3 separate regions of the Homo sapiens genome follow, and all the other regions are linked to region 3. The links come from fine-mapping of genetic effects on gene expression. A gene starts in region 3. Each other region holds a variant in brackets. All regions are shown on one strand. Distances are between the middles of the regions.

Region 1 (10,169 bases), 180 kb after region 3:
CTGTTTCATATTGATATTACTTCTCTCCATCCCGAAGAACTTCTTTAGCATTTTTTGTAGTACAAGTCTGTTAGCAGTGAATTCTGTTATTATTTTTTAAATCTGAAGACATATTTTTTTCCTTCATTCTAGAAGGATATTTTTGCTGAAACAGAATTCTGGGATTTTAGTGTTTTTCTTTCAGCCTTTTAAAACGTTCCACTCATTTTTGTCCTCCACAGTTTCTGATGAGAGTCTTTTGAGTCTTGCCTTTCAGTCCCTCTGTATGTAATATATTGTTTTTCTCTGCCATTCAAATAATTTTCCTATATTTATTGTGTCATTTTAATCTTACTGATTCACATTTTTTTCTTTTTTCTTTTTTCCCTTTCCAATATCTTCACTAGGATGTCCCTGGGTGTGGTTTTCCTTGTATATATCCTGTTTGGAGTTTGATGCTTTTTGACTTTGTAAATTTATATATTCACTATTTGGGAGGTCATTTTGGTTAATATTCCCTTAAATAACTTTTGTGGCTCATTTTCTCTGCCCTCTCTAACTGGGACTCCAGTGACATATGTTAGAGTTTTTGATGTTGTGTCACAGGCTTAATGTTTGATGTTGCCCCTGAGGCTCTGTTTATTTTTCTCTCTTTTATTTAGGTTGAATAACTTGTATTGATCTATCTTCAAGCTCACTGAGCCTTTCTTTGTTCATGTCTATGCTGTTGATAATATTAAGCCTATTCCCAGTGATTTTTTTCAGATATTATATGTTTTCTTTCTAGAATTTTCATTTAGTTCTTTTTTATTGTTCTTATTTTCTGCTGACATTTTCTTTTTGATTCATTTTGCATATATTTTCCTTTATTTTCTTTAGCATAGTCGTAATAGCTGTTTTAAGTCTTTGTCTGATAATTCCAGCATCTAGGCAATCTCAAAGTTGACCTCTGTTGATTACATTTTCCTTGATAATATATCACTATATCCTGACTTGTTACGTGTTGTGTAACTTGGGATTGTATGCTAAACATTGTGAATACAGTACTTTGGCAATTCTGGGTTCTGCTATATTCTTCTGAAGAGGGTTGCTGTTGTTTTTGTAAGCAATTAACTTGGTTAGATTCAAACCACAAATTCTCTCTATCCTGTTGTGGATGTGAGAATTTCAAGTTGAACTTCATTTCTTTTAGCTTTCTCTGAAAACTGCTTTGTGTTTGCCCCATGTGTGCATGACTTATTGGTTTCCCAGAGACTTGGGTAGAGTTTGAAAACAGAATCTGGGACTCCCTTTCTTTGGATTTCTCTTTTACAACGTTAGTCTCTCATTTTCCATAAGCTATGGTTGCCCTGAGTTCTGTCATCTGGTTCTTCAGGCCAGAGAAACAATGAGTTTTCTGTTGAAGTTTTGACCACTTTAAGCCAGCAATGACTACAGTCAGCTCACAGGATAGACCCATAAAAATAAGAATCTCACTCTACATCATTCTTCTAGGTTTTGACTTCCTTCCAAAATCTTCCTATTTTGCTCATTCTATACAGCTTTGGGTAGTTGTTTTTGTATTTTTCCCAGAGCTTACAGTTGTTATGTGAGTGTTCAGTTTGTTAGGAGCTTACACTGCCATGCCAGAAGTGGAATTCCAAGTAACTCACCATGATCCCTAACTTCAGAGGTTGTTGATCTGAGAATATATTATCTCATGGTTTGTTCATCCCTATTTTGATTATTTCACAGGGATAAGAGAGAGAGGATGTCAAACTGGCCCTTTAGGGTGTCAGTGGTAAGAAAATAATTGGCAGTGGAAGAAGTGGGGAATGGGGGTGTTAGCTATTTGCCTAAGTAAAATTTGTGTATTATGTATGGATTTCACTTTTCACATACTGGTTGGTCACCTGACACAATTCTGAGAGTTATGCAGGAGGCACCCCTGACTGTCATCTGTTAGCCACAAATAAATCAGAATTGAGCTGCACCAAACATAGACACACCTGATTATAAACAGGATGATTTTTGTAAAGTACACAGAAAGTTCCTACTGATCTCAAACATCTTCCTACATCTAGGCTTGTGAGTGATGTCACACATCTACCATCAGAATAGAGGTTTTTGGCCTGTCGGCCTCCATAATTGTAACAAGACTTTTTGGTTTTGTGCATTTCTTTTTGGGAAGGTAGTCCAGAGTGCTTGTTAGTGCCTCAAAGGTATTTGGGAATGCTCCCCTAAAAAAATTATTTATTATTTGATAAGTGATTAAAAACTAAAGTATCATCACCTTTTATTTGAATTCAAATTTCCTGGAAATATATATCTTGAAACTGTATTAGCTATTCAATAATGAGACTTAACAAGATACTTTTAAAGTGATGTCTGTGAAGCTGCTGGTTTGTATAAGTTCTTCAACACAAGTTTACATTCTTCATTTCTTTTTTATTTTATTTTATTTTATTTTATTTTGTTATTATTATACTTTAAGTTTTAGGGTACATGTGCACAATATGCAGGTTAGTTACATATGTATACATGTGCCATGCTGGTGTGCTGCACCCATTAACTCTTCATTTAGCATTAGGTATATCTCCTAATGCTATCCCTCCCCCCTCCCCTCACCCAACAACAGTCCAAGCCCTGAAGATCCCTAGGAGACACAGGGCAGGAAAATGCTCAGGCATTAGTATCTAAAAGATCTGTGTTCGATTCCAGGCAAATTACTTACTAGCTGTGTTACTTCAGAAAAATTACTGAACCTTTTTGTAACTCGATTTCTTTTTCCTTATAAAAACAGTTATTTATTTATTGTTAGTAATAACACTTGTTTATTATAGAACATTTAGAACAATCTGAAAAGAATTAGAAAGAAAAAAATCAATTGTAGTCCTGAAACCTAGTGATAATTACTACTATCATTTTGTATATTGAGAGACTGAATATACAAATGAACAATGGTGCAATCAGATATAAAAATAGAACTCTGACCCAAAACCTAACAGCAACCAGTTCAAGAAGCTAAACCACAGCCTTTGCAGTAATTGGTCCCAGACTGTCAGGACATGGTCAACGACTGTCAGCTTCCCAATTTGCATCTCTGTTTCCCACTTAGGACAAACCAGAGAAAGCCAAATATGTTCCCCTAACCAGTCACATAGGATGTCCTGCTTCTGGTCAGCCCCATCAAGCTTCCTTGTGCCAACAGCCTCCAATAAAGGCACACCTGAAGCCTTCCCTTTTTTTTCACTGTAAAGTGTTCCCATTCCTCTGCCCGCCTTTCATCCTTTGTCAAATGCAAGTGATGGTGGCTGACTCCCTTGTATAGCAGGCTCTGAATAAATAGACTTTGCTTGTTCTCATTTGGGTGATCTTCAGTTATTTCCATAGTATTATTCTCCATAATTTTGTGTCTAGGGCTATTTATTCATCCTATATATCTTCTATGGATATGTTATTATTATTATTATTAATTTTAGACAGAGTCTTGCTCTGTCGCCAAGGCTGGATCTTGGCTCACTCCAACCTCTACCTCCTGGGTTCAAGTGATCATCCCGCCTCAGCCTCTGGAGTAGCTGGGATTACAGGCATGCACCACCATGCATGGCTAATTATTTTTGTATTTTTAGTAGAGATAGTAGAGATAGGGTTTTGCTGTGTTGGCCAGGCTGGTCTCAAACTTCTGGGCTCAAGTAATCTGCCCACCTTGACCTCCCAAACTGCTGGGATTACAGTTGTGAGCCACTGCGCCTGGCCTGGATATGTTATATTGTGCAGTTTTGCCTTCTGTTTTCTTTCTCTTAGCGATATGCCAAGGTGAACATGTCATGAAATGTCTTTCAAAAATGTGACTTTAGGCTGGGCACAGTGGTTCAAGCCTGTAATCCCAGCACTTTGGGAGGCTGAGGCAGGCAGATCACCTGAGGTCAGGAGTTTGGGGCCAGCCTGGCCAACATGGTGAAACCCCGTCTCTACTAAAAATACAAGAACAACAAAAAAATGTTATTTTAAACAGCTGCATAATAATCCATCTTATGCACATGTTCTTATTTAGTGAAGCTTGATCTGTCGTTTGGCCTTTTAGCCTCTCTTTGCTCATCCATAAAATGCACAGGCTAATATTAATACTACAGGATAGTTGTGAGAATAAGATAAATCAAATTTGCATAGTTTGTAGCAGAATTCCAGACACATGACAGATACTCCATAAATATTATTTCCCCTGTCAATGAAACACTCAAGATGCTTCATCCGAAGGCTCCATCCCTTCTTGCTCTCTCACCCCTCCCCATAGACGATGGGTGCCTTAGCAGACTCCTAGTCTTCCCCACTGGGGTCAAAATAATTCCAGTGCCCAGAGAAGCAATCTGGAAGTCAGAGATCAGATTTCTTAGCTTTTTTCATGGCTAAGAGCTACACAAACTGAGAACTTGGTGATGAGTAAACAAAACCCCAGTAGGGTATTTTCTTGTTGACATGGCAACCTGATCACGAACTGTCTAGGCAGTGCTGTCAGACTGTGCATTTGGGAGACTTTCCCACTAGTACCGGATGAACAATTCTCAGCTGGCGAGGTAGGTGAAGGATGTATAAAAGCACTTGTTCTACAGGCTTCTACAACCAGCCCCTCAGCCAAGCCAAAGTCCCCCTTTGAAGCAGGGTTTAGGGTACACTCTTTATTATCCTCCTA[C/T]AGCCAGAGCAGCTGCTTAACTAAAGGATGTCAATAATATCTGCTTGAAGACCTTTTGTCTTGAATTTTCTGCCTGGCTGGCTTTCAAAGGCTTTCCCAACCCATGCTCAGCCCACTGTTTGAAGGCACATTCTGCAAGTAGAGCCACAGGAAGACACAATAGGTGAGAAACAGCCAGTTGTCAAAAACACAAGCAATTGAAAGACAGAAATCACTTCCGAAGGAGCAACTTACTGCCCTGGGGTCTGAAGCAATTAGATTCACCCCATTCATTATTCCTCCAACTTTAGCAAAAGGGTCTGATTTCTTCCCTGGAAGTCCGGACAGCTGTCTCAGGGTAGCTCTGTATAGCGGTGCAGGTTATGCACTGCACAAAGCTGCCCGACAGAGGAGTCAAATAGGGACTGAGGTCCTGTCTGTACATCACTCACCACTGTGGCATGTGATCTTGTCCTCCCAAAGTGTACGCCTTTCCTGATTAAAAAAGGCCCTGCTGAGGCTGTGTTACTATATCAAACTCTTTTGGAGGGGAGAGCATGGGCAAGGAGCACAGGAGAAGAGGAGAACTTTTTTGCCTGGGCCTCACATTTCTAGCAGGCCTCAAATTTAGACTTTTCTCATGAAGTCAAATTGAATTTATAAATGTAATCACAGAATCGAACCAACAGGATTGAACAAATGAAATTGCTCGCAATATTTATAAAATGATTTTAGGATGTTTGCATTTGCTAGTACCACAGAAATCTCTAGAGTTTTTCACCTCTAGATGCTAAAGGTGCTTGGATTACTCTGAAAGCCCTTACTCTGCTCCCTGGGCCTAGTGTTCCAGCCCTGGATCAATCCTCGGGGGTGGGTAGGGTGGGTGTGGTGAGACTTTGGTTCAGTCACCTTGCATTTTGGGAACTTTTACATGTTTACTCTTGCTGCTCTGCCTTTGACGCTTAGAATCAATATTATGCACAGTACTTTACTGTGTAATAGAACAATCTGTTGAGGTGATAATTTGGGCTTTTTCCTTCAAGCACTTTCCCCTGACCTTCTGCACTTGCCAGGAATGAGTTAGGGGAGGTGTGTATCTTAAACCAAGGATAGGAGTTGTGGGCAAAGGCACTTGCCTTCCCGAAGACCATACCAGTTTCATAATGACAAATACTTTGTCTCATTTACTCCTGAACCTTTGTTACCTGGCGCTTAATAGGTTGGGTGATCAATGCTCTTGGTTTGCTTAGGACTTTCCAATTTCAATACTTAGAAATCCCACATCCCATGAAACTCCTTAATCCGAGGCAATCTGGGATGATGGACAGTCACCTTATAAGGATTTGTTAACCGAATGAATGAATGATGAATAAATGGCCTTTATTTTCAAAAAGTCCACACTCATGAAACAAACTATGTTAAGCTTTTTGAAGATGAGAAGAGGATAGAGCAGTTTGGCCATCTCTGGGATGTGTGCCAAATCTGGCCCATTGCCTATTTTTTTAATGGTCTGAACATTAGAATTGGTTTTAAAACAATGACATGAAGAGGCCGGGTATAGTGGCTCATGCCTGTAATCCCAGCACTCTGGGAGGCTGAGGTGGGTGGATCACTTGAGGTCCAGAGTTTGAGACCAGCCTGGCCAATATGCTGAAGCCCTGTCTCTACTAAAAATACAAAAATTGGCCGGGCATGGTGGCAGGCGCCTGTAATTACAGCTACTCGGGAGGCTGAGGCAGGAGAATCACTTGAACCTGGGAGGCAGAGGTTGCAGTGAACTGAGATTGGGCCACTGCACTCCAGCCTGGGCTACAGAGCGAGACTTCATCTCAAAAAAGAAAAAAAAATGTAAATAATATTATTTTGTGACACATGCACATTTTACAAAAATAGATTTCTGGGGTTCATGAATATAGTGTCATTGGAATGTAGCATGCTCGTTCATTTATGAGTTGTCTATGGCTGCTTTAGCACTACAGCAACAGAGCTGAGTAGCTGTGAAAGAGATAGTGAGGCCTGTGATGCCCCAGCATATTTGCTACCTGGTCCTTTACAGAAAAAGTTTGCAGACGCCTGGGATGGAAGGAGCTCTGTGGACTCCAAGAGAGATCAGAGGTGGAAGGTGAGAGATGGCAGGACCTTCACATTGCGTAGCTGGCAGTACCTCTCAGAGCACCAAGACATCAAACAGTGACTGGACTCAAGACACAGAGCTGTCTGCCTCAGCAAGGTTTCTGCACCCACCAAAGCTGAGAGCTTCTTAGAGTGGGGAGGTGCCACTGTCAGCTGTGACAAAGAGGAAGTTGGCCATGATGGAGGATAGGGGCTGAAGGATGGAAAGTCCTAGATTCTAAAATGACTCAGAGAGATAGGTGCTCAATGGTGACTAAGATGAAATTTCTGCCCACCGTGGTGGGAATAAGCCTTGGAAACTGATTTAAACTGAGCTTCATGAAAACAAAGAAATAGTGATTTCTTACACATCTGAGTGTGTGGCTAAGCCTGGTCACTACAAGTTGTCTAGAGGATTCTGTTGTTGTAAAACTATAGAAGCACAGAATCTGAGCATGTACGGAACCTAAGAAGTGATCTAAACCAAGGCATGAAGGATGAGAACCATGAGCCTGGCAGTTTATTACAGGCCAAGAAAGGAACATTTTCAAAGTCCATAGGCTTGTCTTTGTCCCTGCCCCCAAACTGGTGCAAACCTGGCATATAGTTGGTGCTAAATAAATGCTTAATAAGTGAATAGGCAAATGTTTTCTTTCTCCCTTATAGTAGTCCTCAGAACCTGTTATAATCTGACATGGATCATTTGTAGTTTAATACGAATTTAAGGAAATTGCTATCACACCCAGATGTTTATAGTAAAGCCTTATCTATAACAGTAAAATGAAAGCATATTCTTCAACTGAAGGTATTTAAACGTTAGCAAATTAGTTGGGGAAACTGGAGACCCAGGCTCTTCCAAGGTTCTTGAAATCAGCACCCCAGTAATAATGCTAACAGCTGTTGTGCGTCTATTATGTGTCAGGTTTTAAGAAAACCACACTTTGTGGGCCGGGCGCGGTGCCTCACGCCTGTAATCCCAGCACTTTGGGAGGCTGAGGTGGTCGGATCACAAGGTCAGCAGATCGAGACCATCCTGGCTAACACAGTGAAACCACATCTCTACTAAAAAAAAAAATAGCAAAAATATTAACTGGGCATGGTGGCGGACGCCTGTAGTCCCAGCTACTAGGGAGGGTGAGGCAGGAGAATGTCATGAACCCAGGAGGTGGAACTTGCAGTGAGCCAAGATCACGCGACTGCACTCCAGCCTGGGCGACAGAGCAAGAATCTGTCAAAAAAAGAAAAGAAAAGAAAAGAATACCACACTGTGTGAGTTATCTGGAGTCCTCACATCCTCACATCCTCACAGAAATGCTGCCGGGTGGGTATTCTTACTCAACAGGTGGGACAAATGAAGTTCAGAGAGGGCAATAAGCCACATAGCTACTCTTTATCTTTCTCAGCCTTGTTAGTCCCCAGAGGGAGGTCGGTGGCTGGAAGAAAATGTTTTAATCATCATTTTCCAGAAGAACAGGTTCCCAGAACTATTCTCCTTGCGTTTTTTTCCACATATTGAATTTCTGAACAGTAGCAATTTCGTGGCCAGGACAGACTCTTGCTTGTAGGAGACATACTAAGCGTTTCTCTAGATTGCTTCTCTAGTTATTTGCAGCTGATTTTTTCGCAAATCATCTCTGAAGAAACACAGACAAATCTTTCCTTCATTAGCTTCGTCTACAGCTCCGTGAAGTTTAGCAAGGGAACTGCATTATTTTGAATAATTCAGCTTTCCATCCCAACAGTTCCCCATATATAAGAAAGTACCTGTATTAGAGTACTATGGGCCTGGCTGGCCCCCTTGTTTATATAGATGAAGGTCTGTCTCATGTGGAGTCAAGTTTGGCGATATTTGCAGCAATATAATGAGGTATGAATTGAGGATTAATTCCCAGCCCTGTTACTAGACCTGTTACTGAACAGACTTCAAAATCCAATTATAAATTATAATGCAATATAACATATTTCCAACTCTTACAGAACCTCAGGGACTTGAAGAAATCATTTACCTTGGAGTTATTTACATTTATTGGTTCTTGTTTTCACAATGCCCAATACTTCCAATTTATTATTTCAGGATTCTATTTTTTGCTGAATCCTTGCTCTAATGCTTCCTGTGTTATCAGCTTATGGAAATGAGGAGCTTGTTTTCTATGAGGGGGGCATGGGGGTTCTCTCCGCAAAGGCGCATCCCCAAAGGGAGTTTGTATGGGGCTTAGTTTTTGATTTTAGAATATTTTGGCATTACTGACACACTTAAGACCCAGAGTTTGAAAAAATTAACCATCTTTTCCCCTGAGTATAAAAACCAAACAAACAAAACAAACCATTGTGAACAATGTGGAAAATTTCAATTTGAACATTTAAATGAAAAAAATTAAAATACATATAATTACACCATTCAGTGATTAGAACTATCAATATTTTTGCATATTTATAGGTGCAGTGTTTTTTAGTGTTAAGCACTATGCTGTTTTGCATGGATTGACTTACTTAAGCTTTTCAGCCATTTCACAAGATAAGTAATATTATCCACATTTTCTAAATGAGAAACCAGCACAGCAAGGTTAAGTAATTTGCACAAGGCCATCCAGAGAGAGTTAGAGGTAGGTGTGGGATTCAGACCCACCTAAGCAGTCTAATGCTAGATTTCTGATTTCAGACTCTTCCTTCAACTTCATCAGTGTCATGTTTCCATGTAGATGTACAATGGATGTCATATCAGTGGCTATACATATTTTGTACTTAATGCAGTTACTTATACTGTGTATATAGTTTAGTTTCCCTTCTGGTTGTTTTTTTTTTTTTTTTTTTTTTTTTTTTTGAGACGGAGTCTCGCTTGTGTCCCCCAGGCTGGAGTGCAATGCCATGATCTTGGCTCACTGCAACCTCTGCCTCCCGGGTTCAGGAGATTCTCCTGCCTCAGCCTCCCAAGTAGCTGGGACTACAGGTGCCTGCCACCACGCCCGGCTAATTTTTGTATTTTTAGTAGAGACAGGGTTTCACCATGTTGGCCAGGCTGGTCTCGAACTCCTGAACTCAGATGATCCGCCTGCCTCGGCCTCCCAAAGTGCTAGGATTAATGGTGTGAGCCACCTCGCCCAGGCTTCCATTTTTTACTTATCATGTCATGTGTATTTTTCTCTCCGTTATATTAAGTTGTTTAAAAAAATCATTTTAAATTGTGATTGCATTTTCAGAAAACAAAATATTTATGTCTCACTTCACATCATGTTCCTAATTAAATTTTAGATGAATTAAAGATCTTTAAAGTTTGTAAACAAATTAATGTTTTGGAAAAAAATTAGGAAAATGCAAGGGAATCAACTCACTTGAGTTTGAACCACAGTCCAGCTAGTTAACAGCTCTGTTTTTTGGACAGATTACTTAACCTGTTTGAGCCTCTGCTTCTTAATCTGTAAAATGAAAA
Region 2 (10,169 bases), 81 kb before region 3:
AATGAACAATTTCATTAATGAAATCAACTCAATTAGTTTTATTATTAGATAGCAGTTAAAACAGTATTAAATAAACAGTGTTAGTTTAGTTTTAGGTCTCTGCAATGTGCTGCTGGTGGTCTCTGTGATTTCCCTCAGTTCTGAATGTAAAGCACTGTTGCTTAAAATAGATCACTTTGCCAGATACCAGATTCTTCTGTGGACTAACCCTCTACCCCTTTAAAAATAAAGCAATTAAGAGAAATAAAAACCTAAACTGATCCTTTCAAATAATAAGGATTCAATTTGTCACATGATGTTTATCATGTACAAAATTATTCTTTTTTGCCCTGGTTCCTTTGATCCTTTTCTGAGACTTAGGACTAGTAAAACTAAAAAGATAGGGGTTATCCTGTAAGGAACCAAGAATCTATACTTCTGTAAAAATTTCTATTTCCTCAATAACTTAAGATCAATTGCAACTGATGATGACTATAATGATAACCAGCTGACATTTACTGAGAGACTACTATGTGCCAGGTCCTATGCCAAGCAGTTCTTACATGGTTTTTCCCATTTATTTCTAATAATAACCCTACATAATAATCCCCATTTTACTTATGGAGAAACAAACTTATTTAATATCACTCAGCAAGAAAGCGGCATAACCAGGACTCTGGTTTGTGTGACCGGAAAACTCGGTTCTTAATTTCTCATGAGCACACTGAATCTCTCTAAAAAGCATGCACACACACACCCCCTCTGTGGGAAGAAACATGGTATACTTAAACCCAGTTCATTCTACCCTATGAAACTGAGCTCCCTGGGCCAGGCGCGGTGGCTCATGCCTGTAATTCCAGCACTTTGGGAGGCCGAGGAAGGCGGATTACCCGAGGTCAGGAGTTCGAGACCAGCATGGCCAACATAGTAAACCCTGTCTCTACTAAAAATACAAAAATTAGCTGGGTGTGGTGGCAGGTGCCTGTAACCACAGCTACTCAGGAGGCTGAGGCAGGAGAATCACTTGAACCTGGGAGGTGGAGGTTGCCATGAGCCAAGATTGCGCCACTGCACTCCAGCCTGGGTGAAAGAGTGAGACTCTGTCTCACAAAAAGAAAAAGAAATTGAGTTCATTTTATGAAAACGTAAAGCAACTTTAATTTTAGCTTTCTAAATTCTTCACTTTCAGATATCCATATTTGGAAGTAAACTAGAGGATACAAAATAATTTAAATAAAATGCTTCTTCAGGAAAAAAAAAAAAAAAAGGAATTCTATATTCTTTTTCTGCTCTGGGACATTCCAGGGGCCTTAGCAACAGGAACAGAGTGTGGAATGTTGTGGCAACAGAAAGAAATGAAATAATGTGTGTGTGAGAGACAGTATGTATGTTCCTAAATATTTTAAAGCATAAATTCACAATCAACCCGTCTGCAAATTAAAATAGGGATCTTGCTCAAATGCTGTGAAAAGCTTGATTTACAACAGAAAATAAAAATATAAAATTAATAAAAATGAATTCATTATTCAATTAAAAAGTTTACAAAATATACTTGTAATATACAACTTAGGCCATTAATTATGTACTTGAGCATAAAGTTTAAAAATTGTACTTGAATTAATGGATTCTAAACGAATTTGAAAGAATGGATTTTATTGTTGTGTAAGCCCTAAATCTTTCTCAGGATTTAGGTCACCCCTATGTTCCAATTAGTGAGTGGGCCAGCACCCACATCTAGGCCATCATGTACTTTGGAGACCCCAGGCCAGCATACTAGGGAGGATTAGGTTTAAGCACAAGGACACTTGAGCACATGTATATGGAAACTTCAGTCACATGCAGAATGAAGTCCCTCTGCTAGAAACCATACCCCAAACTGTGGTGAATGTATTTACTTTGGTGTTGCTATCTCCATTTTGAGGACTTTGTTCAGTAACAAGAAAACCTGAATGGCACTGCAAAGCATTTAACCTGCCCAGTACCCTGCGTGTCTCCCTTTTCCCACGCATCCCAAACTTCTACATGCCACTCACAAGTTTCTATCTCCAGCCCCGACTGCTCCCAAGCTCTGTCTAGTTTCACGTACCAGACTGCCTACTAGACATTACCATCTAGATGTCTTATATACATTTCAAACAGAACAAGCATGTCCAAAACTTCACTCTTGACCCTTCTCTGCTCCTCACCCAACAACCTTCCCCATTTTGGGTAAATGATACTATTCATCCCCCAACAGCTCAAACTAAAAGCCCAGGTGTCACCTCCAACTCTCTTGTCCCTCAACACATTCAGGCCACTAGCACACCCAGTTAAGTTCTATCCTAAAATCTTCATCCACTTCTCTCCACTGCCATGGCCACCACTATTGGGCCTGCCACCAGCACCCTTTCAATGAACTCTGGAAGAAGTCCCCTAAGTAGTCTACAAACCTTTCCACAAGGCTGCCAGAGTGATTCTTTAAAATTCCCCACCAGATCACATCACTCCCCTGTTTAAAATTCTCCAGTGGCTTTCTACTCCTCTTGGAATAGAACTCCAGCCCTTACCCTGGCTCCCAAGGTCCTGCCAGATATACCTGCACTTCCCTCTCATCCTCTGTTCCCTCGTTCCCCACTTCTCTCTCCTTGGCTCACTCTGCTCCAGGCACACTGACCTCCCTTCTCTCCTCAAACCCAGAAACCTTTTCCCCAGCCAGACTCTATGCTTGCACTTCACAAGATGCCTGGTGTATTCTCACACATCAGGTCTCAGCTCAGCTGTCACCACTTCAAAGGGCTGTTCCTTCCCCCTCCCCAGTTAGTTACTATCACTGGCATTTTAAGCAGAGTGGCTAAGAGTGTGGGTCAGTATCACTCTGAATCCTGGTTCCCTCAATCAAAAGAAACGTGACCTTGGGCAAGTTATACAATCTCTTCAAATTATCACTTTTTTTTCCAGACACAAGGTTTCTGTCGCCCAGGCTGGAGTGCAGTGGCACAATCACAGCTCACTGCAGCCTCAATCTCCCAGGCTCAAACGATCCTTCCACCTCAGCCTCCTGAGTAGCTAGGAGTAATCACAGGTGTGCACCACCACGCCCAGCTAATTTTGTTTTATTTTTTGTAGAGACAGGGGTCTCACTATGTTGCCCAGAATGGTCTCAAACTCCTGGGTCAAGTGATCCTCCCACCTTGGCCTCCCAAAGTGCTGAGATTACAAGTGTGAGCTACTGCGCCTGGCCAGCATTTTCTTCACATATTGAACCGTGATGACCATAGTACCTACTTCACTGGGTACTTCAAAGGACAGAAAGACTAAGAGAGCTACTACATGCCAGTCTTAGAAATGCACCTGGCCCTAGGAAGTGCTCACTCAATGTTTGCCCACAGTCTATGAGATAAAAGTCATGATTGTTATTTGTCAGGAAACTAAGGCACACAGGATTGAAATCTCACAAACTAGTATATAGCACACCCAAGGTTTAAACCCAGGTCTGCTAGACTCATAACACCCCTGGCAATTTCCAGTATTCTCCCAGAATCACCTCCTCTATGCCAGTGCCACTCCCACTGCCAGTGCCCAAGGTCAAGGTATGGGGCCTCTACTCACCTGAACAGGTCTCCTAACAAGGCCACAGTTTGTTCCTCTTACGTAGCCTCCTCCTCCCAGCTGCCTGAGCCCACAAACTTGTAAAGCAATAATACCACTTCTCTACTTGAAGACCCCTGCTGGCTTCAAAGTGGGGGTTGGACTCTGGACCTACTGCTCTGCAACAAGGCGCCTACCTAGCATTCTGGTCCCTCCCATCTCTCCAGCCTCAGTCAATGTGATTCTGCCTCAAGTCTCCTGTCATTCTCAGAACCTGTCTTGTTCTCCTAAAATTCCTTTTTTTTTTTTTTTTT[G/TG]AGACAGAGTCTCGCTCTGTCGCCCAGGCTGGAGTGCAGTGGCACAATCTCGCCTCACTGCAAGCTCCGCCTCCCGGGTTCACGCCATTCTCCTGCCTCAGCCTCTGGAGTAGCTGGGACTACAGGCGCCCACTACCATGCCCGGCTAATTTTCTTTTTGTATTTTTAGTAGAGAACGGGTTTCACTGTCTTAGCCAGGATGGTCTCAATCTCCTGACCTTGTGATCCTCCTGCCTCAGCCTCCCAAAGTGCTGGGATTATAGGCGTGAGCCACCGCGCCTGGCCCACAATTCCTTCTTTTGGACAGAACAGCTCCTACAGCATAGAAAGCTCTTCTCTCTGCTCTTTCTACAATTCCCACCGTTCGACAAGAACTAGCCCCAATGCCCTCTCTGCTAGGCTCCTACTCATACCCTTTATGCCTGCCATTTCAGCCCTTCACTCACTGATTTATGATTTATGAATAAAAATTTACAAATGGAAACCTCAGTAGTCCTGTCTGGACAGCAGACTCTTTGCCTTGCCTAGCACAATACCTGAGAAGTTCCCTATCACTGTGTGTTTATGAAGTAAATGACTGGCATTTGGAACTTTTCTGTAGCTTTCAGTTGCTCTTAGGATAAAAGCAATGATCCCTGACCTAGCCCACCAGCCTTGAACAGCTTGGCCCTGCCTCTCTGCATCTGGTTACTCTGGCCTTGGTTTTGTTCCTGAACTACACCACACTCTCGTCACAGAATCCTGTGTGGTACTTGCTGCTCTTTTTGCCTGGAACTCAGTTCCCCCAGACCTGTACCTGGCTTGTTGCTCTACTTCATTCGGTCTTAGCTTCAATGTGGCTTCCCCAGAGACTTGGCTAGGTAGGGCTCCTAGCCAAGCACTATCTCCCATTTGTAAACATTCATCCAGCTGTGCAAGCCTTAACTTCCTCCCACTAGACTACATTCCATATCTATCTTGTTGACTGCTCTGGTGGCAGTGCCTAATGGTGCCTAACCTGGCTGACAGAAAGCAGCAATGAATATGTGCTAAATATTACTTGATGAATAATAATTGAAAGATTAAGTCCTTGTGATGCCACCGTAAGTCAGAAGGTTATAATTGTGCTTTTATGTCATTTAGTGACACATGGTCATCATCTGCTGGAATTGGGTATGCCATTCAGTGACAGAGAAGTTCAAGTTCAATAGTCTTCCCTGAAAACATTTTATACCTAGAGGCAGTTTCTAGTAAAACTTCTGTATTTCAATGTCTGATTCTCAAATCTGCATGTTGACAAATTCTTTTGTGCTAGTGAATCCAGCACAGTAGCTAAAAGCAGTTCTGCAGTGAGACTACTTGTATTCAAACGTCTACTCTTCCTCTTACTAGCTATGTGAGCATGGTTAAATTATTTAACCTCTCTGAATCTCAGTTGCCCTGTGTCTAAAATACAGTTAACAGGACCTGTGTTTCACAATACTATTGTGAAGACTGAATGATCCATGGAGAGCGCTTAGTACTACTGATAGTAATCACTCAATAAAGTTAGCTCAAGAAAACAAAAACACAGGTTGGGTGCGGTGGCTCATGCCTGTAATCCCAGCACTTCGGGAGGCCGAGGTGGGTGGATCACTTAAGGTCAGGAGTTTGAGACCACCCTGGCCAACATGGTGAAACTCCATCTCTACTAAAATTACAAAAATTAGTTGGGTGTGGTGGTTTACACTTGTAATTGCAGCTACCTGGGAAGCTGAGGCAGGAGGATTGCTTGAACCTGGGAGGCAAAGGTTGCAGTGAGCTGAGACTGCGCCACTGCACTTCAGCCTGGGTGACAGAGCAAGATTCTGTCTCAAACAAACAAACAAACAAAAAACAAAAACCAAAAACTAACAAAAAACAAAAAAAAACATAACTCACAAAATTGATCCACATTAGAAATGTTTGTCTCAAGGTCCCCGGCTCTTACTAATTAACAGAAGTCTGGTCTACAGTAATCCCCGCTTATTCATGGTTTTGCTTTCTGAGGTGTGAGTTACCTGTGGTCTGAAAATATTAAAATGAAAATTCCAGAAATAACTTCTAAGTTTTAAACTGCAAGCCATTCCGAACAGCAGGATGAAATCTCGCACCATCCCACTCCATCCTGCCCAGGACATGTATCATCCCTTTGTCCAGTATATCTACACTGTCTACACTACCTGTCCATTAGTCACTTAGTAGTTATCAGATCAACTCCTGCTATTGTAGTACTTGTGTTCAAGTAATACTTATTACTTAATAATGGCCCCAAAGCACAAGAATAAAAATGCTGGCATACTGTTATAATTATTATTATTTTATTATTAATTATTGTTGTGAATCTCTTCTGTGTCTGACTTATAAGTTAAGCTTTAACATAGTTATGTATGTACAGGAAAAAACAGTATATATAGGATTCAGTACTACCCTCAGTTTCAGGCATCTACTGGGGATCTTGGAAAGTATCCCCCGCAGATACGGGGGAACAACTATATACACCAATTAGCAACTGACTATTTCACAATGTGAGCTTAACTCTCAAGTGGTCTTGTGCTCCTACTGCTGGCCACACACTCCTCCCTGAAGGCCATGCAAGGGAGAGGTAGGGGAGGCATGCTGGGGCTCCAGCAGCAGAGGGCCAATACTGCAAGCCAAGGGCAACCTACAACTTTTAGCAAGGAAACCACAAGATCCAGAAGGTAACTCTGCCATGAATGTGTATTGACCTAGGTAAGGAAGGCAGCTCCCAAAGGCTGATGCAATAGAGTGAGACAGGAAGAGACTATACAATGAAAATGAGTGAAACCAGACTGAAGACATGGTCTAGAGTACCCTGCAAAGAGCTCAGGAGACCATGGATGTGAGGCTGAGGCAGAGGAAGGAATCCAAAGATGAGTCTGTAGTTTCTTCCTTCTTTACTGCAGCTAATATAAACACATGAAGGGTTAGGCACAGAATAGAAGAACTCAAGTTGTGTTCAAATCCCAGCCCTGCCACTTACTAGCCTATACCTCAATATTCTCATTTCTAAATGGGTAAAGTCAAAGTACCTACCTCACAGACTACTAGGAGGACTACACGAATATATGTAAATGCTTCAAATAGTGCCTCCTACACAGTAAGTACTTTGGAAATTCAAGCCATTTTTATCATCTTCTCCACTGTCGTCCTTTGGTCTCTGAGCTGGCCGTGCTTACCAGGGCCCACTCTACACTCCCCCTGCTCCCCAGTAACCACAGTGATACTTTTAAATCATAAATGTCATCAGGCCCAATTAATCTCCTCAGTGGTTCTACAATGTAGTCAGAATAATAACAAATACTGGAGGGTCCTGCCTAACATCGGCAACCTCAAGACACACTGCTCTCTTCGAACTCTCCGCTTTGGCATTCTGAAATCCTTGACAATTATGCCAACCCCACTTCGGGCCCTTTGCTAGTTCTGTTCCCTCTGTATGGAATGCTTTGCCTGCCTGGCTCTAGGCTTGAGCTCACATTTCATTGGAAAGACTTTCCCTGAATACCCAATTTAAGGCAGGCCCCTGTGGCTTCACACAATTCTCTCTTGTCACTCAGTTATTTCTTATTTGTGTTGTGGCTATCTCCTTCATTAAGATTTAAACTCCATGAGGTCAGGGGCCACAAGTACATAGCACAGTACCTGACACACAGGTTTTCAACAAAAAAATTTGAGAATGGCCTCTGGAATAAAACTGAGTTCAAATCCCAATCCTATCACTCATTAGGAGCATGACCCTTGGGCAAGTTACTCTGCTCAGTATACTCACTTGTAAAATAGAGATTATAGCAGCAACCTTAAGGGTAGTTATGAGGATAAAGAGAATTACCACACATAAAACTTTTGTAACTGTGTTTGGCATGGAGCATGTGCTATGTATGTAATACTATTACAATCATTTCTATTTTTACTATCAGTGGGATACACTAGCCACTGCTTCAATCTCTACTGGTCTGTAGCCACTACCTCTTGTAACACTATGTATTAAGTACTTAATGGGTGTCAGTTATTGTGGCAGGTATTCTAAATACATCATTCATTCATTTATGCACTGAATAAATACATGAATGGCTACTCTGGCTAGGCACTATTCAAGGTATTGGGTAAATATATCGGTGAACAAAATTCACAACCCTACACAAAAGAAAAAAAACCCTGCGAAGTGTTGATACGTATAACAAAAATAAAACAGTTTACAATTATGGAGTGCCTCCTGTGTTCCACGTACAATGCTAAGTATTAACTCATTTGACTTCTCAGGGTCAATAACCTACTTTATAGAAAGCAAGTGAGGCAGCACAGAGAGGCTGTGTGCCTTATGTCACAAAGTCAGTAAGCAGAGGAGCTGGGATGTGAAGGTAGGCTACTCCAAAGTACATGCTCTTTACCATCTTATTAGATGAGCTCCTCCACTACTCAGTGCCCTTCTTGAATTACTCTCCACCTCTCCCAGGAAATCCCTGCTCTTCTGTCTCATTTCATGAAAAGTCAATCAAGCTGTTCCTATCTGCCAGCAGACTCCTGCGGGTACCTCTGTACTGTCTGCTCTCACCGCTGCTCATAGGTTTCCTGAGATGCTAGGACTCTCGGCTCCATTGTTGGATATATTTCTAAGAAACCAGAGAGAAGAGGAAGGCTGGTCTCCACGTAACAGGTTTTACTACAGTCAGTTCCAAATTTATTTCAACAGGTGACTCTCAATAGTCGGTAATCAAAAGTAGCATCAATGATATTTTTAAAGTTTTAAATTGCTGTTAAGTGAGCTTTAGTCTCAAGTAGGAAAGGAAAAAGGTAGAATTTTATTTCCACCTTCCATAAGCACAACTCCCAGATTCATATTGTCTACTCCAATAATTAAAGATAACTGGATTTCCCTTTGACCAAAAGATGTCAAATGATGGAACCAACGAGAGACCAATCAGCAAGCTACTAAATGTATGAGGTCTGGCCCTGCGTAAACCAAAGCAGTCAATAAATACTAGATTTAAAGAAAATAAAGTGAGATGTTTCAAGTAAAAAGCAAGCAACAAAAACCACAGCAGCAGTCCCCAACCTTTCTGGCACCAGGGAACAGTTTCGTGGAAGACAATTTTTCCATGGGACTGGGGCAAGGAGAGAATGGTTTCAGGATGAAACTGTTCCACCGCATATAATCAGACATTAGTTAGATTCTAGGAGCACACAACCTAGATACCTTGCACGTGCAGTTCACAATAGGGTTCACACTGCTGTGAGAATCTAATGCCACCGCTGATCTGACAAGAGGCAGAGTTCAGGCGGTAATGCTCATTCCTCTCTCTCTCCCAAACCCCCCACCCCATAGCCTGACTGCTAACAGGCCACTGACAGACTGGTGCTGGTCCACTGCCCAGAGACTGGGGACCCCTGCACCAGACGACCAAGGAGCTAGAAAGATGAAAATATTCCTAATATTAATTACTCACTAATTACAAATGGCCAATATTATCAATAGTGACCCCTAACAGGTAAGAGTTACAGTGTTTACATTGTCATTGCTTGTACTGAAATTGAGATAAAATGCTGGGGATAGAATAGAGTAGGCAAATATCAAAATCCTGAGGAACCTGCGTTAGGAATGGCAGGTGGGGCTACAACAGTGACCAACATGGCAGTACACACGACAGGTTTGTCTCACGGGTTCCTTAAGCTACTCCTCAAAATACTGTCAGCAAATCCTGACCTCTCAAGTCAGAAAACAAGCTTTCAATGCCATGTGTCCCAAATCTGGAAGTGCCTACCAAAAACCTTATAAATCTTGTCTGCATCCCTACCATTTGGACAAGCATGTAGTCTAGAGTAGGATACGGGCTCTAAGAGTCTACCACTTAGCTTGGTTTTGTAATCTCCAGCAATGTACTTAACCTCTAGGCACATCTAGGCATACAGTTTCTACATTTGAAAATGATAGTATCAACTTTAATGGACTGTTGGACGGAATGAGATAATTCATGTAAAAAGTTGCGGTCTATATCTGTCTAAACACAGTAAGCAGAGTGTACACATAAGGGCTCGATAAAGAACAGTGTTTATTTTGTTACTATTATTATTATTGTGGTTATGATTATAATCTCATGACTCAGTTAAGAATACCATTCCTTCTTTTGTTCATTGCAACACCACATCTGTCAGGTATATTGTGTAAATTCCATGGCTCTCATTCAACTTAGAACAGAATTAATTATGAAATGGCATTGGCTACTGACCTGTCTTTACGTTTTTAAATGGTTAATGTAGCATTTATGTCTGCCGTAAGGCTCCCAGCCTTGGCTG
Region 3 (10,169 bases):
AAAGAAAAGAAAAGAAAAAGATGTATGATATCTCCTTCTAAAGATGAGAATGTAACTGTCTTCAAAATGGCTACCACTTTCTGAGTACTTACTAGGAGCCTAGGAGTAAGCAAAACTTTTTTGCATTTATTATCCCATTTAATGGTCATCTCCTCTAGACTCAAAGAAGGAGACTGGACCAAGTTGAACACAACCAGAGAGCTCAGGAAATGAGAATCAAGGCCATATTCAAAGCCTAAAGGCTGTGTTCATAACCATTTCCCAACCCAAGGGCAGAAAGCATAAATGATCACCACGAATAAATGACAGGAAAGGTTAAGACTATAGAAATAGTAGAAGCAAGTTTATTTTTATGGCCATAAGCATTATACAGTATTTTATTTACGTATCTCACACTTTCTTTTGACTCATAATGCCCTCTCTTACTTCAGCATTTAAAGTAAAATATGATTCAGTCCTGCCAGACCCTTTCCTATTGACAAAAATCAACACAGGTACCCAACTGTGAAGGCATTTTAAAGACAGCAGAATTAGACAACTAAAGTTATAAGTGTAACTTCCACCCATGAAGTCCCTGGGTTACCTGTGAAGGTCTCAAAACGAAAGGAGTGCTGAAGCACTTTTAGGGGTGATGGACTATAAAGTACATGTGCAGTATTTTAGTTTTTTAATTCAGATTATAAGTGAAGAGAAAATGTTAAATGGAATCTTGCCCACAGAGAGAAATATAATGCTGGTGGGTGGCTATCATTTCTTCCTGCCCAGCAGCATCCATGTCCTCCCCTCTGCCAAATAAACCATCATTTTCCACTTTCCTCTAAATATCTATATTTGGGGACCACTCAATCCTAACTCATTTTTGAAAATCTTTTTCTTAAAAAACAATGTTTTAAGTGTTAATATCTTCATCACACCAATTTGGAAATAATGTACTTATTATCCTATACCATGAATATACATGTTTCCTCAGATGTTTATTAATGGTTCCCCAAACCTGGCTTGTAAGTCCTTCTTGCGGGCCAAAGAGGAGCTAAGACTTTTATACGGGAAACTTCTAGCTAGCCTCCCAACAACTCTACTAGTTAGCCATATCCAGATGAGTAACTGAAGAGTCAAGCAGGGTAAGTAGCTACAGTGAATAAAGGAAACCAAATTTGAATTTTAAGTCTATTTTGACTCAAACTGTGTTTTTCCCATCATGTTCTACTGTCCTGCCAAGGCACAAACACATTTTCTTACAATGATTCCCTTTGAGTCAAATTTCAAATTTTCTGGAGAGAAGAGAGTGGAGCTGAAAGACCCATTTACTCCAACGGCTGGTGTCAAGATCAAATCTTTGCTTATCTACCATCAAACGATCTGGTCTGAATTTTTAGATATAATTTTTTAAAAACACAGCCACAGTACATGCAGGACTAGCACGTCAGACCAGCTTGGCTTATCAACTGATAGGCAATGCTTTGTTGTGGGAATAAAATGGAAGTGCTTTTACACCTCTAAGTCTGAAGACAACTTTATTTATTTATTTGTTTGTTATTTATTTATTTATTTCAGTGTCTTACTCTGTTGCCCAGGCTAGAGTGTAGTGATCTCGGCTCACTGCAACCTCAGCCTCCTGGGTTCAAGTGATTCTCCTGCCTCAGCCTCCTGAGTAGCTGGGATTACAGGCCACACCACCACGCCTAGATAATTTTTTTTGTATTTTTGGTAGAGATGGGGTTTCACCATGTTGGCCAGGCTGCTCTTGAATTTCTGACCTCAAATGATCCACCCGCCTCGGCCTACCTCAAATGATCCACCCGCCTTGGCCTCTCAAAGTGCTGGGATTACAGGCATAAGCCACTGTGCCCAGCCTGAAGATAACTTTAAAAGGCAAGTAACGAGCACACAGATCTACTTTTCAAAAATGTTTTTTTCTCTTTAGAATGGTCATTCTGTGATGGCTCATGACTGTAATCCCAGCACTCTGGGAGGCTGTGGCAGGAGGATCACTTGAGCCCAGGAGGTCAAGGATGCAGTGAGCCAGTTTCATGCAATTGCATTCCAGACTGGGCAACAAAGTGAGACCCTGTTTCAAAAGAAAAAGGAAAAAAGAAGAAAGAAAAGAAAAGAATTCTAACTTCCATTTTATTCAATAAAAAGATGTGTCTCTAATTTTTTTAAGTCCTGGATCTCTTTTCTAAAACAACTACAGACCCTCTTCCAGAAAAATACACATACACAAAAAGTTCTGGTCACAACTACAGGGAGTTCAGGAATCCCTTGAAACCAACCCTTGGAGGGTCACAGACCCCCAGGATAACTCTTGCTCTAAAAGCATAGTACAAAATTCCTTACATTATTTCACAGACCCAGAATAAAGACCATATATAGCTAGCTCTCTCATAATTTTTTATATTTTCAGAAAGCAAATATCAAATAAACACACAAATTTTCTTAACTAGTCTTTCATATTCTCAAAAAAAAAAAAACCCAGAAATCTTATGACTCAAATAAATCAATAAATATAAGGTCATACAAGTTCAAAGTCTGAATCAGTTTTCTTAAAATCTGCTACTTCCATTTCTGTGTTTCTGCCCATAAAGATCTGTCTTGAAAAGAAGAAACATTAGTATGGTAAGGGCTTGAGTCTTTGCTACTTTAACATTCATCAACATGTTAATATGTAAAAAGAAGACCACTTGTAAAGTTTACTAAAAGATGTTCTCTCATATATATGAGATATACGATATGATGAAAAGACAATTCTTAAATGTTCAATGAATAGATCTGTGTCAATGCAATTGCAAGTAAAATCATGTAGCTGACAAAATAGATTTTAGAGTTCATAAAGGCTCAAATTATGTGTTTCCCACCACTTGAGTCAAGAACTTTCAGGCTGGACACAGTGGCTCAAACCCATAATCCCAGCACTTTGGGAGGCTGAGGCGGGAGGATCGCTTGAGCCCAGCAGTTTGAGACCAGCCTGGGCAACATAGTGAGATCATGTCTCTACAAAAATAAAAATAAAAAACTTAGCCAGGCATCATGGAACATGCCGGTAGTCCCAACTAGTTGGTAGGCTGAGATGGGAGGATCACTTGAGCCCAGGAGTTCCAGGCTGCAGTGAGCCCTGATGATCGTGCCACTGCACTCCAGCCTAGGCAACAGAGGAAGGTCCTGTCTCAAAAAAAAATAAAATAACTTTCAGGAATGTTTATTTTCAGGTACAGCTCAAACTTTAAAGTCTTTCAAATTCCTCTTGGTCTTATTACTCCAGAAAATTTCTAGCATCATCCAACAAAATTATAGGTTATCAAATTAACTTATAGAAATGTTTGAACAGCACTCCATTTATGAATAACTCAGAGAGTATCTCACGAAAATTTAAGTTACAGGGGGCAGTGATACTTTCCCATGAAAATATTACAGATTATTTTAAATCACTGACACTGTTTCAAAATCAGTATTATGATAAGATTAAGAAACACTTAAAAAAAACTTTTCACCACATGACAATTACTTTCTTTTTTTTTTTTTTTTTTTTTTTTTTTTTTTGAGATGGAGTCTCGCTCTGTCGCCCAGGCTGGAGTGCAGTGGCGGGATCTGGGCTCACTGCAAGCTCCGCCTCCCGGGTTCACGCCATTCTCCTGCCTCAGCCTCCCAAGTAGCTGGGACTACAGGCGCCCGCCACTACGCCCGGCTAATTTTTTGTATTTTTTTTTAGTAGAGACGGGGTTTCACCGTTTTAGCCGGGATGGTCTCGATCTCTTGACCTCGTGATCCTCCCGCCTCGGCCTCCCAAAGTGCTGGGATTACAGGCGTGAGCCACCGCGCCCGGCCGACAATTACTTTCTAAACAATAACTATCCCCACCAAAATGCAACTTGGTATTGTGAACCCCAATCAATTGACAATTTCAGTTTACAATCTGTAGTACTTAAGATTTAAAACAATTCTTCTCTTAGAGTGCCCTGTCTCCTAAAACCAAGGAAATGAACAGGGTCTGATGATGCCCACCTACAGCCAGCGTTTAGGTCAGTATTTTTTCAAAGTCGGAAACTTCATACCTTAGGGGAGAGCAAGTCACATCTCAGAATCTTCATGTAAAGTAATTTTTGTCTTTGTGACAAAAGTCAAGTTCTTGAGCACTAATTCTTGAGAGCACTGTAATGGTATTATTGAAGTCACTGGTCTCACATAATATGACTAAAATTGTACATATTTCTTGCTAGAGGTTAAACACACTTCACTTTAATACATTTGCATCTGCAACTTCTCCTCTTTGAAAGAACTGGGGGAAAACAGGGAGAATGTACCTAAATTTAGTAAGGAAAGTGAAACAACCAAGTTTATCCTACACAACTTCTTCATCCCGGATATGAAGATGCAAGATCTACTTGGGGGACAGGAAAATTGGAAAACAACGGTATGGCTGAATAAAATAACAAACCTGGGTTCAAAATGAGACACGATCCTGGTGCTAATCGTATCTATCCCACTGGAGGTCAAATCAGCTGCACTGGTGCCTGTTTCCTCATCCACCTCTCACCACCTAAACGTGCCATTTACGAGAAAGCTATCGAAGTTGAATCAAAGTGACTTTTGGAAAGAGATGCCAATATAATTTGCAGTGTGCTCCAAACAACTACACACAAGGCAACGTTTCTCATTGAGCACCCCCGCCCCCACTTTCAACTTCCCCTTAAGATAGGGACAGTCACATAGACATTTTTTGAAAATCAAAGAGAAAAATAAAAGCACCCCATCACGATCACCGACGAAATCCCGACTCTGTGGTGGAATTGGGTGCCGGGTGAGGACGATGGCAACACGCTCCTGGTCGCTTCGCGAACTCCTCCGGGAGGTCGCCAAGTTTCTCTTTCACCCTTTTTCCCGCACCCGCCGAGCCCAGGAAGGAAGGGGGCGGCCGCAGGGGCCGGAACCGCGCGACCTGGAACCCGGGGCCTTTTTTGATTGCCGGCCGCGCCCCGCGCAAGTGCCGGCGTTCGAGACCCGCCCCAGCGCGCGTGGGCGCCAACTTCGCGGGGACCCCCAGCGACGCGCCCCCCTCGGTACCCCTAGTCCCGCCTCTCCTGGGCTCAGCCGGATCCGGGCGTCCCCGTCACCCTCCCCACCCCCCAGGGAAACGAGCCCACCCCTAGCAGCGTCACCCTGGATGGGGCGGCGGGGCCGCAGTCACCTTCCCGGGGAAGAAGCCGGGACCCCGACTGCGGGCGGCCCGCAGCTCCCGCCGCACCCCCGCAGCCCTGGCGGCGTCCGGGCGAGCTCACCTGGCGGCTGGCTGCGGCCTCCGGGGCGGCCTCTGGGCGTGGGCCGGGCGGGGGCTGCAAGGGGGGCGGCGGGAGCCCGGGCTGCAGCCGGGGCCGCCGCCGGCCGCCAAGCCTCGCCCCAACTCGCGCCGGCCGCGGCCGCCCCCGGGGAGTACCGGGAGCGCGGGGAGCGCGGGTCCCGCGGCGGCGGCGGCGGCGGCGGCGGCGCGGCGCGGCGCGGCTCAGGCGTCGGAGCAGGCGGCCGCGGGCGCCGCCGCCTCCTCCTCCATGGCTGTTTACCCGGCTGCATTGTGGGAGTTTGACCTCCGCCGCCGCCAACCGCCGCCTCAGCTTGCGCCGCCGCCGCCGCCGCCGCCGCCGCGCACGCCATGGGAGCCGTGACTGACGGTGAGGCCCCGCTCGCCGCCACACGCGCCCGCTGCACGGCCCGCTGGGCCTCCCCTGAGACCCCTGGCCTCCCGGCCCGCTTCCGGGAACCCCTCGGCCTCCCCGGCCTCTTCGCCAGAGCGCTTCGGCCTTCCCGACCTCTCCCCGGAGCCCCGGGCCTCCCCGGCTGCTTCCCTGAGTCCTTCCTCCTCTCGCCAGAGCCCGAGCGCCCCTCGGAGACCCTCGGCTTTCCCCGTCCGCTCTCCCGGAGGCAGCGCGGGGCTATAGGGTGTGCCGGGAGCGTGGTCGGTGGGCTGGGAACACACGTGGGTGGCCGAGACGGCTAGAAGCGGTGCAAGGGCGGGTGGGACCAGAGGGAGTCCGGGTTTGTCTAGGGGCGCGGTGAGGACCCAGGAGCCGCGAAGGGTGGACAGTGGTGCCGGGCTTAGGGCTGGGGGCCTGGAAGGTTTGTGGAGGTCTGGGAGGGAGTGGGAGCTCCAGGGACGGGGCGGGAATTTCGGGACTCGTCTACAAGGGGTGTCAGGATACAGAGCGTGACACCAGGAGGGGTCCTGGGGCATATTGGGAAGCACTCACAGACAGTGGAGTCGATGGCAATGAGGCCTTGAACTGCGAGTGGATTGTGGGTGAGAAGGAGGAGCAGGGAATTATTTATAAAAGGAATAGATAGGGATGAGGTATCCGGAGGGTGATCAGGAAGTGTACCTGGGAGATTTACGGGGGTAAGGAGGAGCCAGTATAGTGATGAGACCGTCTAGGGTAGATCAGGACGATAAAAGATGTATGTGTGTGTGTTAGGAAGGGTGGTTGTCAGCTGGGATGAATTTAGAGGGGCAAAGGCTGGGTTTGTGGACAGTCTAAGGGAGATGGTCTATGGACTGAGAGCGGAAATAAGGTGACACTTTGGGGGAAGGGGCATGATTGGCAACTGGAGGGAGAACCTACAAGGTATCTGGTTAGGGAGGAAGGAGGTCCTTTGATATCTGGGAAGGGGATATCTAGGGCTCTTGGGTGTTTTTCAGGAGATGGTGACCGGTAACTGTAAATGCCTGTGGAGAGGCCACTTCTTAAGAGTTGAAGACCACCAGGGTCTCCACATTAAAGGGCCTGGCCATGGGAAGAACAGTGATAGGCCCAAATTTCCAGACTGATAAAGAGTAGTGGAGGTGGGAGGCTACTAAAGACCCAGGAACTTCATGTGGAATTTCAGCTTTGCTTCATTCCAGTTTCATTTATTTAGTGGATATTTATCCTTCCTGGACTAGGCTTTGGGATTACAACCCAGAACTAACAAGCAAGAACTTTTCCCTCTCCAAAATTTTGGTCTGAAGGGAAAGAAACATTGACTAATGAGTTTTAAGAGTGACAAATATTACCACAAGGAAGTACAAGGTTGGGAACTGTAGGAACATGTAACAAAGATTATTTATCCAATCAATGGAAATGAGAAAGCCTCCTCGAAGTTAATCCCATTTTTGAAGAATAAATAGATATTGGACTGGTGTTCTGGGTTGGTAGCCACTTGTATAAAGACCCCAAGATGTTGGAAGAACTCAAAGCTGACAAGTATTGCTAGAATTTAGAAAGTTATGAGCCAGAGATCTCTAAGGGCAATAGGAATCCATTAAAAGTTTTAACACTGGTGTGGTGTTAATCAGATTGGCATTAAAACACACACACATGCCGGGCACAGTGGCTCACGCCTGTAATCCCAACACTTTGGGAGGCCAAGGCAGGCGGACCTCTTGAGCTCAGAAGTTCAAGACCAGCCTGGAAAACATAGTGAGACCCCATGTCTACAAATACAAAAAAATTGGTCTGGCACAGTGGCACACACCTGTAGTCCCAGGACTTGGGAGTCTGAGGAGAAAGGATCACTTGAGCCTGGGAGGTTGAGGCTGCAGTGAGCCAAGATCGCGCCAGTGCACTCCAGTCTGGGTGACAGAGTGAGACCGTGTCTCATTAAAAAAAAAAAAAACACACACACACATACACACTGTCTCTGTTATGTGCAGAATGATTAGAGGAAGAGAAAATGAGGAGCTAAGTTTCCTCGCCACTTACTAACGTTTACGTAGTGCTGTTAGGTATTATTCTAATTGTTATCCCCATTTTACAGATGAAACAGACACAGGTTAGCTTGCCTAAGGTCGCACAGATAGTAGTTATAGAGGGTCAAAGGCAGGGAGACCACCTGCCGAGTTCCTGCTCTTCACTATTATGCGTCCTGTGTCTGCTACTTCTGCAGTGGCCCTGGTGAGAGACAATGAGGACTGTGACCAAGAGGGAATGCAAAGAGGACAGGTGGGAGGGAAATAGGGAAATTTGTGAGGTAGAATGTCAGGACTTCAGGTATTGAATGGATGGTGGGAGAAGGGATTTAGGATGATCCCAGGTTTTTGACTTCACTGTGTGCCTGTTAGTGCTACTTTTCTATTTATTGAGATTGAGATGTCCAAAGGAGCAACAGGCTTTGTCAGATGGGAGATAGGGACAGAAGATGAGTTCTAAAGTAATGACTGCAGTCAAGTGCCCCCCCACATCCTTAAAAGCCACAGGAATCTCTACCCTGCCACTTACAGACTGTCTCAGCTTCAGTCTCTGAACGGAGATAATAATAAAATCCACATCAGCGGATTGTTTTGAGGATTAAACACAAAAAGTTGTAAAGGGCTTTGCATTGAGTCCAACACATAATAATTAATATTCAGTAAATATTAATGTCAGAGTTGTTTTACTAATCTGTCTTCCACTTTCCTTTGATGTGGACTTTGCCTTCTCTCTTAATCTGCACAGGTTGCCTTTTCCTGCCTTTTCTATCAGGTGACACTCCACTTATTCCTCAAGACCCACCTCAAAAATCCCCTCTTTTCTTTCCTAGAAGTAGTTGACCTTCTGCCTACTAGCCATATTATTTTATGCATATTGCTGCTGTCACCCTTAATACGTTATTTATATGCCTTATGCTAGAAAACATTTAAGGCAGTTCACTGTAATGAGAAAATATAAAAATTAAACGGATTAGAAAACAAGACAAAAAGAACATTGAGATTAGGAAAAATAAAGGGAAGTCAGAAGTGGGGTGATCCTCAAAATGCAGGAGGATAAAGTCTAGTACATTAATTAACCAAGCTGTAAGTGACCTGTTTCTCCAGTAGGCCATTCTGAGAGGCAGGACCTCGTCTGCTCTGTGATCTAGTGTTCATGAGAGAAGGCAATCTTAGATGCCCAGGAAAAGCACTTTTTTTTTCTGATTTGAACTAGAGGAAAAGTTTATCATTGAGGTCTTTATAAATGAAAGCCAGTGTCATATCCTTAACCTCTTTTCAGCACTGAAGATCATAGAGCTGTTTTGTAGCACATCCCTTGCTAGGTAAAAGAAGGCTAAATCACAATTTAGAAAGACATTCTAAAGCCAGTAGAGGCTGGGTGTGGTAGCTCACACCTGTAATCAATCTTAGCACTTTGGGATGCTAAGGCAGGAGGATCACGTGAGCCCAGGAGTTTGCGACCATCCTAAGCAACACAGCAAGACATGATCTATACTACAGAATTTTTCAAATTAGCCAGGCGTGTGTGGTGGTGTGCACCTGTAGTCTCAGCTACTCATCTCTACTAAAAATTTTCTTAAATTAGCCAGGTGGAGTGGAACACACCTGTAGGTAGTCCCAGCTACTCAGGAGGCTGAGGCAGGAGGATCACTTGAGCCCAGGAGTTTGAGGTTGCAACGAGCCATGATTGCACCACTGCACTCCAGCCTGTCAACAGTGCTAGACCCTGTCTAAAAATAAATAAATAAAATCAATGGACAATGTGGTTTAGGTGGGTAGTGGGTAGCTCTGCTGATCTGGCTTGATTCAAATCAGGGTTTTTTGATTGAATATCTAGACCATAGAGGAAAGACAAACTACAACTTCTTCAGACAATCCTCTATAAACATGGTTTTTGTCAGCTGAGCTTTTGAAAAAATCAAGCTGAAATGAGTGGTATGTGTGATCCGTCAACAAGTATTTATTGCATACCTTCTAGGCACAATGCGAGGTCCTGGCTACTTTGCAGTGAACTAGACAGAGGAGGGCCCTGGCCCCTGCTTTGGGGAAAGAAGCCATAGTGTGCAATCAAATAAGTAAATAAGATAATTTCTGAAAAGGAATGTAATTAAGTTCTGAGAATGAACTTGATGGAATGAGGACAGAGAGTAATGGGGGAGGGCAGTGATACCTGACAGGTTCAACCACATGAAGAGCCCAGGAAAGTATTCCAGATAGAGACAACAACTAGTGCAAAGGCCCGAGGTGAAAACAAGCTCTGCACCCTTTAGAGGAAATAAGGAAAGCCACTGGGCTGGATCTAGGGACAGGACTGCATCCAGGTGGGCCAAGAGGAGTACGATGCAAAAGGAGGTAAAAGGGAGCTCAGGAGGAGCCTTGCAGGCTTTGGAAAGGAGACTGAATTGTCCTTTGTGGGCATTTAGAAATGATAGGAGGATTGTAAGCAGGAGAGTTAGTG

The links. PIP is the estimated chance that this variant, and not a neighbour inherited with it, causes the effect.
Region 1: its variant is fine-mapped to the expression of THOC7 in lung (TOPMed, PIP above 0.99).
Region 2: its variant is fine-mapped to the expression of THOC7 in whole blood (INTERVAL, PIP above 0.99).

What each region holds. Positions count from the first base shown.
Region 1 is chr3:63,682,311-63,692,479 of GRCh38, reverse strand. No RefSeq gene overlaps it. Among named protein-coding and RNA genes, the nearest start is that of SNTN, 35 kb to the right of the region's middle. RefSeq lists an enhancer at 3,370-5,328. The variant C/T (reference allele first, on the strand shown) is at 4,652.
Region 2 is chr3:63,940,334-63,950,502 of GRCh38, reverse strand. The region is part of intron 4 of ATXN7 (ataxin 7); the gene reads right to left. Among named protein-coding and RNA genes, the nearest start is that of PSMD6-AS2, 59 kb to the left of the region's middle. The variant G/TG (reference allele first, on the strand shown) is at 3,861.
Region 3 is chr3:63,859,263-63,869,431 of GRCh38, reverse strand. It overlaps THOC7 (THO complex subunit 7), which reads left to right and starts at 5,627. Exons shown (of 8, transcript NM_025075.4): 1 at 5,627-5,660. The coding sequence starts at 5,642. ATXN7 (ataxin 7) reads right to left here and starts at 5,565. Exons shown (of 13, transcript NM_001377405.1): 1 at 5,274-5,565. It overlaps THOC7-AS1 (THOC7 antisense RNA 1), which reads right to left and starts at 8,787. Exons shown (of 2, transcript NR_104326.1): 1 at 8,436-8,787; 2 at 7,613-7,933. RefSeq lists silencers at 4,889-5,108, 5,119-5,358, 5,689-5,908.